Linked DNA regions of Homo sapiens: region 2 is linked to region 1. Evidence: fine-mapped expression QTL. A gene starts in region 1. The other region holds a variant in brackets. All regions are shown on one strand. Distances are between the middles of the regions. Region 1 holds the start of APBB3 (amyloid beta precursor protein binding family B member 3). Region 2 has its middle 32 kb from the start of CD14.

Region 1 (5,375 bases):
GAAGGGGAAGAAGGAATCCAGGGTGCAGGCTGAGGAACTACTGTCCACAATCTGCAGGAAGGGAGGCAAGGATGAAGGTGGCAGGAAAGTTGGAGATAGCAAATGGATGACAGCTGGGGAATCCAGATAAAGTGTCTCCACCTGAAGGCTGAGCTGCTCATCCTGCCTCTTCCATGGCACCTAGAGCTAGTCGGGCCCCTTGCGTAGCAACTGCAAATAGTCCCTTAATGTCTTCTCCACGTTGGGCACAGCATATGCCTGAGCCGCATAGATGCCAGTGCAGGTGCCCACAGCAAAGCCCAATACTGCTGATGCCCTCAGTTTGGCCACCACATAGCCAGCCAGGAATCCCTTGAGGAACGGGGAGGACAACAGCGAGCCATCCTGCAGAGAAAAATGCAGAAGGAAACTTAGCTAGGCTCCTTCCTGACTGTCCAGGGGCTACTCAAGCTGGGATTAGAGCATTCCACCACCAGCTCCTCCTCACCCTGGACAACCGTGGTATTTTCTCCAGATTTTTCCCAAGGTTCTGGGGCCAGAAAAAGAACCAAGCAGTTCTGATCACACAATCTCAGAACCCTGGGGTCAGAAAGCTCCAACCATAGAACTCCACCGCCACACAAGGTCAGAGATGCCCCTAGCCCTGCCGGTTTCTCCAGCCTCATTTCCTAGCATGCTCCCCAACTACTGTAGCCAAATGGACCTCCTTTCACCCCTCATGTTTATAATGCTACTTCCTACCACAAGGCCTTTACATATGCTGTTCTGCCTGGAATGTTCTTTCCTCCCCTCTTCACCTACTTAACCACTACTTAAGATATTAGTTCATGTGCCATTCAGAAAAATTGTCCTTAGGGTGACTGAGAATAGGCCCTCAATAATCACTTGCTGAAGAAATCTCTACCATCCATTTAACACTCTCAAGAGCATGTTGGGCAATAAAGCCTAAGGCAGGGGTGGGGTGGGACAGTCCTTACCTGGCCCACTCCACTGTTGACTTCGTCTTCTACACGCCGCTGCAGGCTTTCCAGCTGGTTCTTGAGAAATGCCAGGTCCTTAAGCTTAGGCAGAGAATCCTAGGACAAGCGAGAGGCTGGCTCCAGCAGTCTGACTAAGCCCCACCCCTTGCTCAATTCCATCAGAAGCTGGGAATTGGGAGGGGATGGGGTGAGCCAGAAAGACCTTTTCCTATAAAAGCTTCCTGAGATGGCAGTGGCAAAGAAAGACAAGCATTGAAAAGCACAGAATTCAAATGAGGGCCAGGAAGGGACTGACAGATGGGATCTGAACCAGTAACTTACATCAACCTTGACAAGAATTTTATATAGCAAGCAGTATGTAGGAAAGGCAGGAGGGACAGCTAGGGACCTTTAATTAGGTCCATCAGGAAACCACTACTGACTCCATTATGAGCTCCTTGAAAGTCGTGACCAGTCTGTCTTGGCTACTATGTTCTAGTGCCTGACATTTAGTAAATGTGTGGGTAATGCTGAGCTTCTAGACCAATGGTGAGTAATGGACCGAGGCAGTTTCCTGGACAATTTTATTGTCTTGGTTCCTGGATGGGCTTTACCTCTTTCTTCCCAAGGACATCCCAAACTGAATGTGAGTGACTGGATGTGACTGAGAATGACAAAAAAGACTGTCGGCAAGTGTGTAAGTAAATGGACTGAGTGATTTTGATCGCATATAAGTATGAAATTCAGAATGTATGCAAAGGAGTGTTTGAATGAGGGTGGTGTGAGTGTCCGTGTGATTGGAAACATCGTGTCACTGGGAAGAAAATTTCGGGAGCTAGGGAATGGGGTAAAGTGAGGAGTGTTTAAGGGTGAATGTTTTTGAGTCTGTGCTAGTAACGGGTTCGTGATGGTTCCCAGGAGGGGACATCTGGGGGATCCACGGCTCCTCCCGCCTCGCCGAATGCTCTCCCCACACCACTCCACACTGTTGAGGCAGTTGACAGGAGCCGCAGAAGAAACAAGGGACATCCTCACTCCTGAGCCGCTCCAGAGTCGCTTCTCCCCGGAACTAAAAAGGTCAAGGAGAGTGAAGACCACGCCCGGCTGCAGATCACCCCCACGGCCACTCACCTTGTCATCCGCCATCTTCCCCGCCGAACTTGTTGCGCAGGCGCATCCCCGCCTCCCTCGTGCCGACTGCCCCGGCCATCTTTACGGAGGGCGAAGGCACTTCCGGAGCATTTTTGGAAAGGGGGAGGTGCTTTCCTAGTGGCCAAGTACGCCTCTCTCAGATACTTCCACGTGACCCCCTCCCGTCGAGTCTCAGGCTGCGTGTGAGCGCACTCACGACCGGGGCGCGATGATCTCACTCGTGCGCGAGTGCGCGCGGCGCATGTTCGGCGTGTCGGTCTTCAGGCGCCTGATGAGTTCATAGTTGGGCGGTGGTGTCAGCGGTTTCGCTGGCGTTCGTGGGCCTCCCCCGGACCCACACACGGAAACACGCAACCATTCGGGGATCCAGACGCCCGTTTACACGCACCACCCCTGGGCGGGCTGTGCGGCTCAGGCCCTCCCCCGGGACCGGCCCGTGTCCCGCCCCGTGTCCCGCCCCGTATTTGTGCGGCGCCAGCTGGCCCCGCAGCCTGCGGCGCAGAGAGGCTGGGCTTGCAGGCGCAGTAGCTCCAGAGGTCGCGCTGGGCTGAGAGTGCGGGCCGGCAGAGGCTGGCGGGGAGCAGCCGGGGTTATGCTGGGCAAGGATTACATGCTGGCCATCATTCTGGTCAACTGCGATGGTGTGCACGGAGGGGCCCGGTGGGAAGACCAGGAGCTGAGGGAGGACGAGGGAATCCGAAAGGCTACTCTGGGGCTCAAAGACGGTGGGGGATACCTCTCTGTGTAGGGACCAGGGGGCGAATGAACCCGGTCTTTACATGTGATGTCTTCAAGATTGAGGAGCCTGGATCTTCAGCCTAAGAACTGACCCATTTTGGGGATGGAGAGGGGATTATGACAGCATGTTATTCTGAACTCACAAATCATATGCTCCCTCCTCTCTAATCCGGTGTTCCTGTAGATGACTTGTGGGGGGACCACAGTCTGGAGGTGGAGGCTGGCCTGCCTCCTGGCTGGAGGAAGATCCACGATGCTGCAGGTACTTACTACTGGCATGTACCCAGCGGTAGCACCCAGTGGCAGCGCCCAACCTGGGAACTAGGAGATGCAGAGGACCCAGGCACGGTAGGTAGAGTGTGAGGAGGAGGTCTGAGCCCATGTGTGGACCTAGGTCTGCTGTTAAACTGACTAACTCCCACTCTACAGGGAACGGAGGGGATCTGGGGACTGCGGCCCCCCAAAGGGAGATCCTTCTCCAGCCTGGAGAGTTCACTGGACCGGAGGTAACGGGTGGCCCAGGCAAAATGAAAGGCTTGGGGTTCCATGGTGTTCAAAAATGCAGCTGGACCCATGGTCTGCTTTCCAGCCCAGGTTCTGGATTCTGTCACATGTTTTGGGTTCTGTTACGTTCTTGGCTCTGTCCCAGGTTCTTAACTGTCAGTATTTTGAGTTTTATCCCTTGTTCTAAGCTCTTGTTTGTAGCTACATGTTTTTCATATTCTTGGTCCTAACCTATCATGTTCTAGACCTTGGCCATTAAGTCCTCTGTTCTAGGGTCTCTTGTCCCACTTTGGGGTTCTGGTCCACATATTGGACCCTGTTCTATTTTGTGACTTTTATTTTTTATTTTTTGAGATGGAGTCTCACTCTGTCATCCAGGCTGGAGTGCAGTGGCACGATCTTGGCTCACTGCAACCTCCGCCTCCCAGGTTCAAGTCATTCTCCTGCCTCAGCCTCCTGAGTAGCTGAAACTACAGGCACATGCCACCATGCCCAGCTAATGTTTGTATTTTTAGTAGATATGGGGTTTCACCATGTTGGCCAGGATGGTCTCGATATCCTGACCTCATGATCCACCCGTCTCAGCCTCCCAAAGTGTTGGGATTACAGGCGTGAGCCACCACTGCACCTAGCCTTGTGACTTTTATTCTATGTCCTGTGTCTGGGTCCTATGTCCTGAATTTTCCCTCAAATTCTGAGTCACACTTTATGTTACGTTAATATGTCCTGGGCTCTACCCTGCTCTGGTTTTATATTTCTGGTGCTATATTCTGGGTCTTGCCCCTCATCCTGTGCTTATCAAGTTGTCTAGGCCTCACCAGTGTCCCTACTGTAGGAAATGTGGTCCTCTTAACAGCTCTGCTCTGTTTCAGTAACTCTCTGTCCTGGTATGGTGGGGAATCCTACATCCAGAGCATGGAGCCAGGGGCTAAGGTAGTGACTTGGGCCTGAGGGCATTGGGAGGTCCCAAGGGAAAGACAAGGGTGGGATTGGACTGAACAGAGGTGATCAAGGGTGAAGACAGGGAGTATGTATTGTGGCACCTGCCACCCTACTCCATCCTTATTAATTCCTGTCCCTTCCCCCAACCTGTCAGTGCTTTGCAGTCCGCTCTCTGGGCTGGGTAGAGGTACCTGAAGAGGACCTGGCACCGGGGAAGAGCAGTATTGCAGTCAATAACTGTATCCAGCAGCTGGCCCAGACCCGCAGCCGGAGCCAGCCTCCAGATGGTGCCTGGGGTGAGGTGAGTTGGCTGGGCCCTTTAATGGTTTGGGCCCAGGGCCCAGCAGAGGTAGCTGTCCCTGAATTTCCTATTTCTCATGGCAATGACCTTTATCTGAGCTCTGGGCTGACCTCTGTCCTTGGCAGGGCCAGAACATGCTGATGATCCTGAAGAAGGATGCCATGAGCCTAGTGAATCCCCTGGACCACAGTCTGATCCACTGCCAGCCTCTGGTGCACATCCGTGTGTGGGGCGTGGGGAGCTCCAAGGGCCGGTGAGGATGCCTACATCCCCCAAGCAAGAGCTACTTCTCCCTCCCGGCTGCAGGCTGTGATCCCCACTGATGCTGATCCCCAGTACTTGAACCCCTGGACACAGATCCTCTGATGTGGACCCAGGACTGCTTCCCCTGCCTGGTCCAGCCCTGGTTGGGGAGGGTGGGCCCAGCTCAGCAGGGACAGTTTGGGGAGAGTCCGAGAGGCTGGGCTGATTCCCTTCTGTGCTCCCACATGCTTCCGGAACAGTGACAGGTGAGTGAAAACCAGGTATCCTGAGCCCCATCCCTGATGTCCCTACTCCATCCCTGCTATATCCCTAGCCTGACTTTCCAGCCTCCTGCAGGCTCCTGCCTCTAACCAGCTTCTACCCCAGCCCCATCTCTGCCCCTGCTAGGGACTTCGCTTTTGTGGCAAGTGACAAAGATAGCTGTATGCTCAAGTGCCATGTGTTTTGCTGTGATGTCCCTGCCAAGGCCATTGCCAGTGCCCTACATGGGCTTTGTGCCCAGGTAAGTGTCAGGG
Region 2 (5,375 bases), 37 kb before region 1:
AAAACAGGAACTCTCATACCTTGCTATTGGGAAAGTAAAATGGTGCAGCTACTCTGGAAACAGCTAGCAGTTCCTCAAAAAGTTAAACATATAATTACCATATGACCCATCAATTCTACTCCTTAGTATATACTCAAGAGAAATGAAAACATATATCTACACAGAAACTTGCACACAAATGTTTATAGCAGCAGTATTCATAATAACCGAATGGTGAAAATAACCCAAATGCTCATCAACAGATGATGGATAAATAAATTGTGATATGAACATTTAATGGAATATTATACAGCAAAAAAAAACCCCAAATATTGATACATGCCACAACTTGGATGAACTTTAAACTAATGCTAAGTAAAAGAAGTCAGACACTGGCCAGGCACAGTGGCTCACACTTGTGATCCCAGCACTTTCGGAGGCCGAGGCGGGCAGATCACCTGAGGTCAGGAGTTTGAGACCAACCTGGCCAACATGGTGTAATCCTGTTTCTACTAAAAATACAAAAATTAGCTGAGTGTGGTGACGAGCACCTGTAATCTCAGCTACTTGGAAGGCTGAGGCAGGAAAAGCGCTTGAACCTGGGAGGTGCAGGTTGCAGTGAGCCAAGATCACGTCACTGCACTCCAGCCTGGGCAATGGAGTGAAACTCTGCTTCAAAAATAAAATAAAATAAAATAAAATAATAAAATAAAATAAGCCAAACACTGAAAGTCACATGTTGTTATTGTTTGCCTTCTTTTATATAATATATCCAGAATAGGCAAATTCATAAAGACAGAAAACTGCTTAGTGGTCACCTGGGGAGGGGAGAGAGAGGAATGGGAAGTGATTACTTAATGGGTATGGCATGTGTTTTGGGCATGATGGAAAAGTTTTGAAACTAGAAAGAAGTGATGGTTGCACAACAGTGCGAATACACTAAATACCACTGAATCATACACTTTTTTTTTTTTGAGACAGAATTTCACTCTTGTTTCCCAGGCTGGAGTGCAGCGGCACTATCTCGGCTCACCCTGGCTAATTTTTGTATTATTAGTAGAGACGGGGTTTCACCATGTGGCCAGGCTAGTCTCAAACTCCTGACCTCAGGTGATCCGCCCACCTTGGCCTCCCAAAGTGCTGGGATTACAGGCGTGAGCCACCACGCATGGCCATTTTTCTTTTCTTTTTTCCTTTCCTTTTTTTTTGTGTGTGTGTGTTTGTGTGTGTGTGTGAGAGAGACAGAGTTTTGCTCTATGGCCAAGGCTGGAGTGCAGTGGCATGATGTTGGCTCACCGTAACCTCCACCTCCCAGGTTCAAGCGATTCTCCTGCCTCAGCCTCCCAAGTAGCTGGGATTATAGGTGTGTGCCACCACGCCTGGCTAATTTTTTGTATTTTTGTAGAGATGGGGTTTGGCTATGTTGGTTAGGCTGGTCTCAAACTCCTGACCTCAAGTGATCCACGTGCCTCAGCCTCTGAAAAGTGCTGGGATTACAGGTGTGAGCCACCACTCCCAGCCACACTTTAAAATGACTAATTATATGTAACATGAATTTCACCTCAATTAAGAAATTCAAAAAGACGAAATGAAACTGTAAACAGTTACAAACTGCTCTAAGTACTATAAGTGGGATGTGTAGGGCGGTGTTGAGGCCTAGCAAATGCCTGGCTCTGACTGGACAGCAGTGAGGTCATCACAGAGGTGACACTGGAGCTGGGTTTTGAGGGAGATGTAGGAATTCGGGAGATTGCAAGTGTAGGAAGTGAGAGAAAAGAGGTTCTTTTTTAAAAAGGAAGAGAAGGAACCATGCAGAGGGAACAGAATAGGCAAAGCCTTGGAGGTGTGAGTAAGCAATTCTCATACTGAGTACTAGAAAAGTTGGAGACCTAGTGTATATGGAGAATAGAAATAGTAGGAAAGGAAGGCAGAAGCCACATGATGAGGGGTTTGGCAGTCCATGTTGATGCCTTTGGACAAGGAATTAAGCAGGATTTATTTCTTGGGGGAACAGCATGGGCAACATCTTGTTGCCTAAATTAAACTTTCTATATGTTGACCATATTTTATTGTATTCGCTTAAAAATATTCATGAATATACTGCTTAGTATGTGCCAGGCACTGTCCTAAAGCTTATTATTAACTCACTTAATCTCATCAACAGTTGTTCTCAAAGTCTAGACTCCACTGGAATCTCCTAGAAGTCTTAAAACACAGAAACCAGAGTTTCTGATTCAACAGGTATGGTGACGCCTGAAATCTGCCTTTTAATTCAATTATCAGGAGATGCTGAGACTGCTGGCACAGGGAATACACTTTGAGAAACACTGCTTTACGTCATCCTTATAAGGAAGGGAGCATTATATTACCATAGTTCTGAGATTGTGTCACTGCACCCCAGCCTGGGTGACAGAACGAGACTCTGTCTCAAAAAAATAAATGGAATAAGGCTGACGTGAATGGGGTCAAAACAACGGTCTTAGAGCAGTACTCTGAGAGGTTGAGGTGGACCAAAGGGAGCCCCTGCTGTTGTCCCAACATGAAGGGCCCTGGACAAATATGATTTATCCAACCTTGTTTGGAGGAATTCAAGAAACCTTACCTTGAATCACCTGGGGCAATAGTCCCATAACCAAATCAGTATAAGGATTGATGACAAATGGGTCAGCTTCCTTTGGTTCACTACCACCACCACCCCATACCCCCACAGCCATTGCAGACCCAAGGCCTTATGCACATCAGTGAGAAAAACTGTCAGGGTG[G/C]AAAAGGGACATTTCTAGGACTCCTTAACATAGGAGCCACATACACTGTAGTCCCCTGCTAGTGAGCCCTCACTAAGACCACAATTAGAACAAAAGTGTATAGAAATCAAGGGTGGATGGGATTAAGGGATAAAAATAGAGTGTTTAGATGGGATTTATGTGAAGGGGTTGTAGCTCCTATACACGGATGTTTTAAGAGAATGAATATTATGTCTTAATGGGGCACACTTTCCCTACCTAGTATTTATAAAATGAAAATCTGTTGGTGAAGTCCTAGTGGAAGCTTCAGTCAGGGATGCAAGGGTTGATGAAACTAAAGTGACAAAAGTTTGGATTAAAATTCGTATGTTTGAACAGTTTGTATGTGTGAATAGCATCTCTTTTCGTTGAATGTAGTATGGGGATATTGTATCTGACCGTGGAACATTTCCCCTCCCTAGTATTATAAACAGAAGGCACATAAATTCACCCTTTGGGGCCAGGCCCACTGGTTCACACCTGTAATCCCAGCACTTTTGAGAGGCTGAGGCAGGTGGATCATGAGGTCAGGAGCTTGAGACCAGGCTGGCCAAAATGACGAAACCCTGTCTCTACTAAAAATACAAAAATTATCCGGGCACAGTGGCGGGTGCCTGTAACCCTGCTACTCAGGAGGCTGAGGCAGGAGAATCACTTGAACTCGGGAGGCGAAGGTTGCAGTGAGCCGAGATCGCGCCACTGTACTCCAGCCTGAGTGACAGAGCAAGACTCTGTCTCAAAAAAAAAAAAAACAAAACAAATTCACCCTATGGGTAATATTAATTGGATGTGCTAAAATGGGAACAAATAAGATGGCCCAAGTCACACTGATTGTTAATTTCAAACAGTATAAAATAGAAGCTGAAGTGCCAGTAGGGAAAATTCTCTGTACAATAGCCCTGTGTGAAGTATAGGCTGGAGCTTATGGCAAAAGTCTGTGAGTGCCACCCAGCAATAACTGCTGGGACTTTGGACCAGAGAATTCCCATTTGCAGGGAAATTACTTATTTCTTATCAGACATTAAGTAAAACTTCCACTATAACTGAAAGATATAAAATAATCTTAAACATAAAATACCCATAACATTTTGGATGATGTTGGAGAAACCATTCAATGGGGAGAGAAGTGCCTGGAAGAGCTCCATAACAAAATGGAAGTTGTTTCTGATGGAACATACCACTGGGGGAATGCCAGGAGATACCATATTTCCAAGCAGATAGACTTTTTCCCCTAGAATTGACTTTTGAACCACCTGAGGAGCTGCCAGATTTTATTTTATTTTATTTTATTTTATTTTATTTTATATTTTATTTGAGATGGAGCCTTGCTCTGTCACCCAGGCTGGAGTGCAGTGTTGCGATCTTGGCTCACTGCTCACTGTAACCTCCGCCTCCCAGGTTCCAGCGATTCTCCTGCCTCAGCCTCCCGACTAGCTGGGATTACAGGTGTGCACCACCATGCCCAGCTAATTTTTATATTTTTAGTAGAGATGGGGTTTCCCCATGTTGACCAGGTTGGTCTCAAACTCCTGACCTCAGGTGATCCGCCCTCTTCGGCCTCCCAAAGTGCTGGGATTATAGGCGTGAGCCACAGCACCTGGCTGGAGCTGTCAGATTCTACTGCTACCTGGAGAGTGTCCTATAAACAGCAAAGAGCTTCTTGGTTTATAATCGCAGTTCCAAGGTGAATGTGCAGCATCTTGTTTGGAAGGCTAAGAAGGTAAAAACAACTTACCTTATAGGCTATTGCATTCTGTTTGCCACTACATTTGGGTTTTTACTGATTCATGGGTGGTGCATACTGACGTGATCATATGGTCAGGCTGAAGAGCAATAGAAAACTGCCCTCTTAAAGGGATCCCCTAAGAAAATCACTATGGAAATTTGAGGGATAGATTAAAGTAGGACATATCAATGCCCAATAGAAGAATCACTTTCCTGGATTGGAAGGTGATTGGCACCAGTGAGTGAATTTCCCAGTGTGCTCACTTGAGGTGGCCACCTGGGTCCATGGAATGAGTGGACCTAAGAATACTGTGGCAATGTAGAGATCTAGACATATTCCTCTTGCACCCTTTGAAGCACAAAATGCCAACAAGAACTGTTTTGTCTGCCAGCAAGAGAGACAGAGAATGCAGGTGGCCCTGGGGCACATTCCCCCGTTGGAAGGCCTCACACATAGCTGGTAGATAGATTACATTGAACAAATGCTGGCAGCCCTGGGGGCTACAAATGGGGTCTGACAGGAATAGACACTTACTTTGGTTTTTTGGTTTTTTTGTTTTTGAGATGGAGTCTTGGTCTGTCACCCAGGCTGGAGTGCAGTGGTGTGATCTCCGCTCACTGCTACCTCCTCCTCCTGGGTTCAAGTGATTCTCCTGTCTCAGCCTCCCGAGTAGCTGGGATTACAGTCGCCTGCCACCACACCTGACTAATTCTTTTGTAGTTTTAATAGAGACTGGGTTTCACCATGTTGACCAGGCTGGTCTCAAAATTTGACCTCAGGTGATCCATCTGCCTTGGCCTCCCAAAGTGCTGGGATTACGGGCGTAAGCCACTGCACCCGGCCAGGAATAGACACTTACTTTGGACTGGGCTTTGCACACCTAGTGGTAG

What was found. PIP is the estimated chance that this variant, and not a neighbour inherited with it, causes the effect. A credible set is the group of variants that fine-mapping cannot tell apart.
Region 2: its variant is the best candidate, but not a certain one, in a credible set for the expression of APBB3 in whole blood (TOPMed, PIP 0.66).

The regions. Positions count from the first base shown.
Region 1 is chr5:140,561,574-140,566,948 of GRCh38, reverse strand. It overlaps APBB3 (amyloid beta precursor protein binding family B member 3), which reads left to right and starts at 2,351. Exons shown (of 13, transcript NM_133173.3): 1 at 2,351-2,752; 2 at 3,034-3,197; 3 at 3,279-3,355; 4 at 4,226-4,286; 5 at 4,450-4,596; 6 at 4,722-4,849; 7 at 5,100-5,105; 8 at 5,248-5,362. The coding sequence starts at 2,704. It overlaps SLC35A4 (solute carrier family 35 member A4), which reads right to left and starts at 2,121. Exons shown (of 3, transcript NM_080670.4): 1 at 2,091-2,121; 2 at 978-1,076; 3 at 1-384. LOC131768270 (SLC35A4 upstream open reading frame protein) reads right to left here and starts at 2,121. Exons shown (of 3, transcript NM_001394034.2): 1 at 2,091-2,121; 2 at 978-1,076; 3 at 1-384. The coding sequence starts at 2,105. The coding sequence ends at 187. MIR6831 (microRNA 6831) reads left to right here and starts at 3,198; the gene lies at 3,198-3,278. RefSeq lists enhancers at 2,044-2,163, 1,919-2,525, 3,134-3,193 and a silencer at 2,484-2,663.
Region 2 is chr5:140,598,606-140,603,980 of GRCh38, reverse strand. It overlaps a transcript of TMCO6 not described here. Among named protein-coding and RNA genes, the nearest start is that of CD14, 32 kb to the left of the region's middle. The variant G/C (reference allele first, on the strand shown) is at 2,742.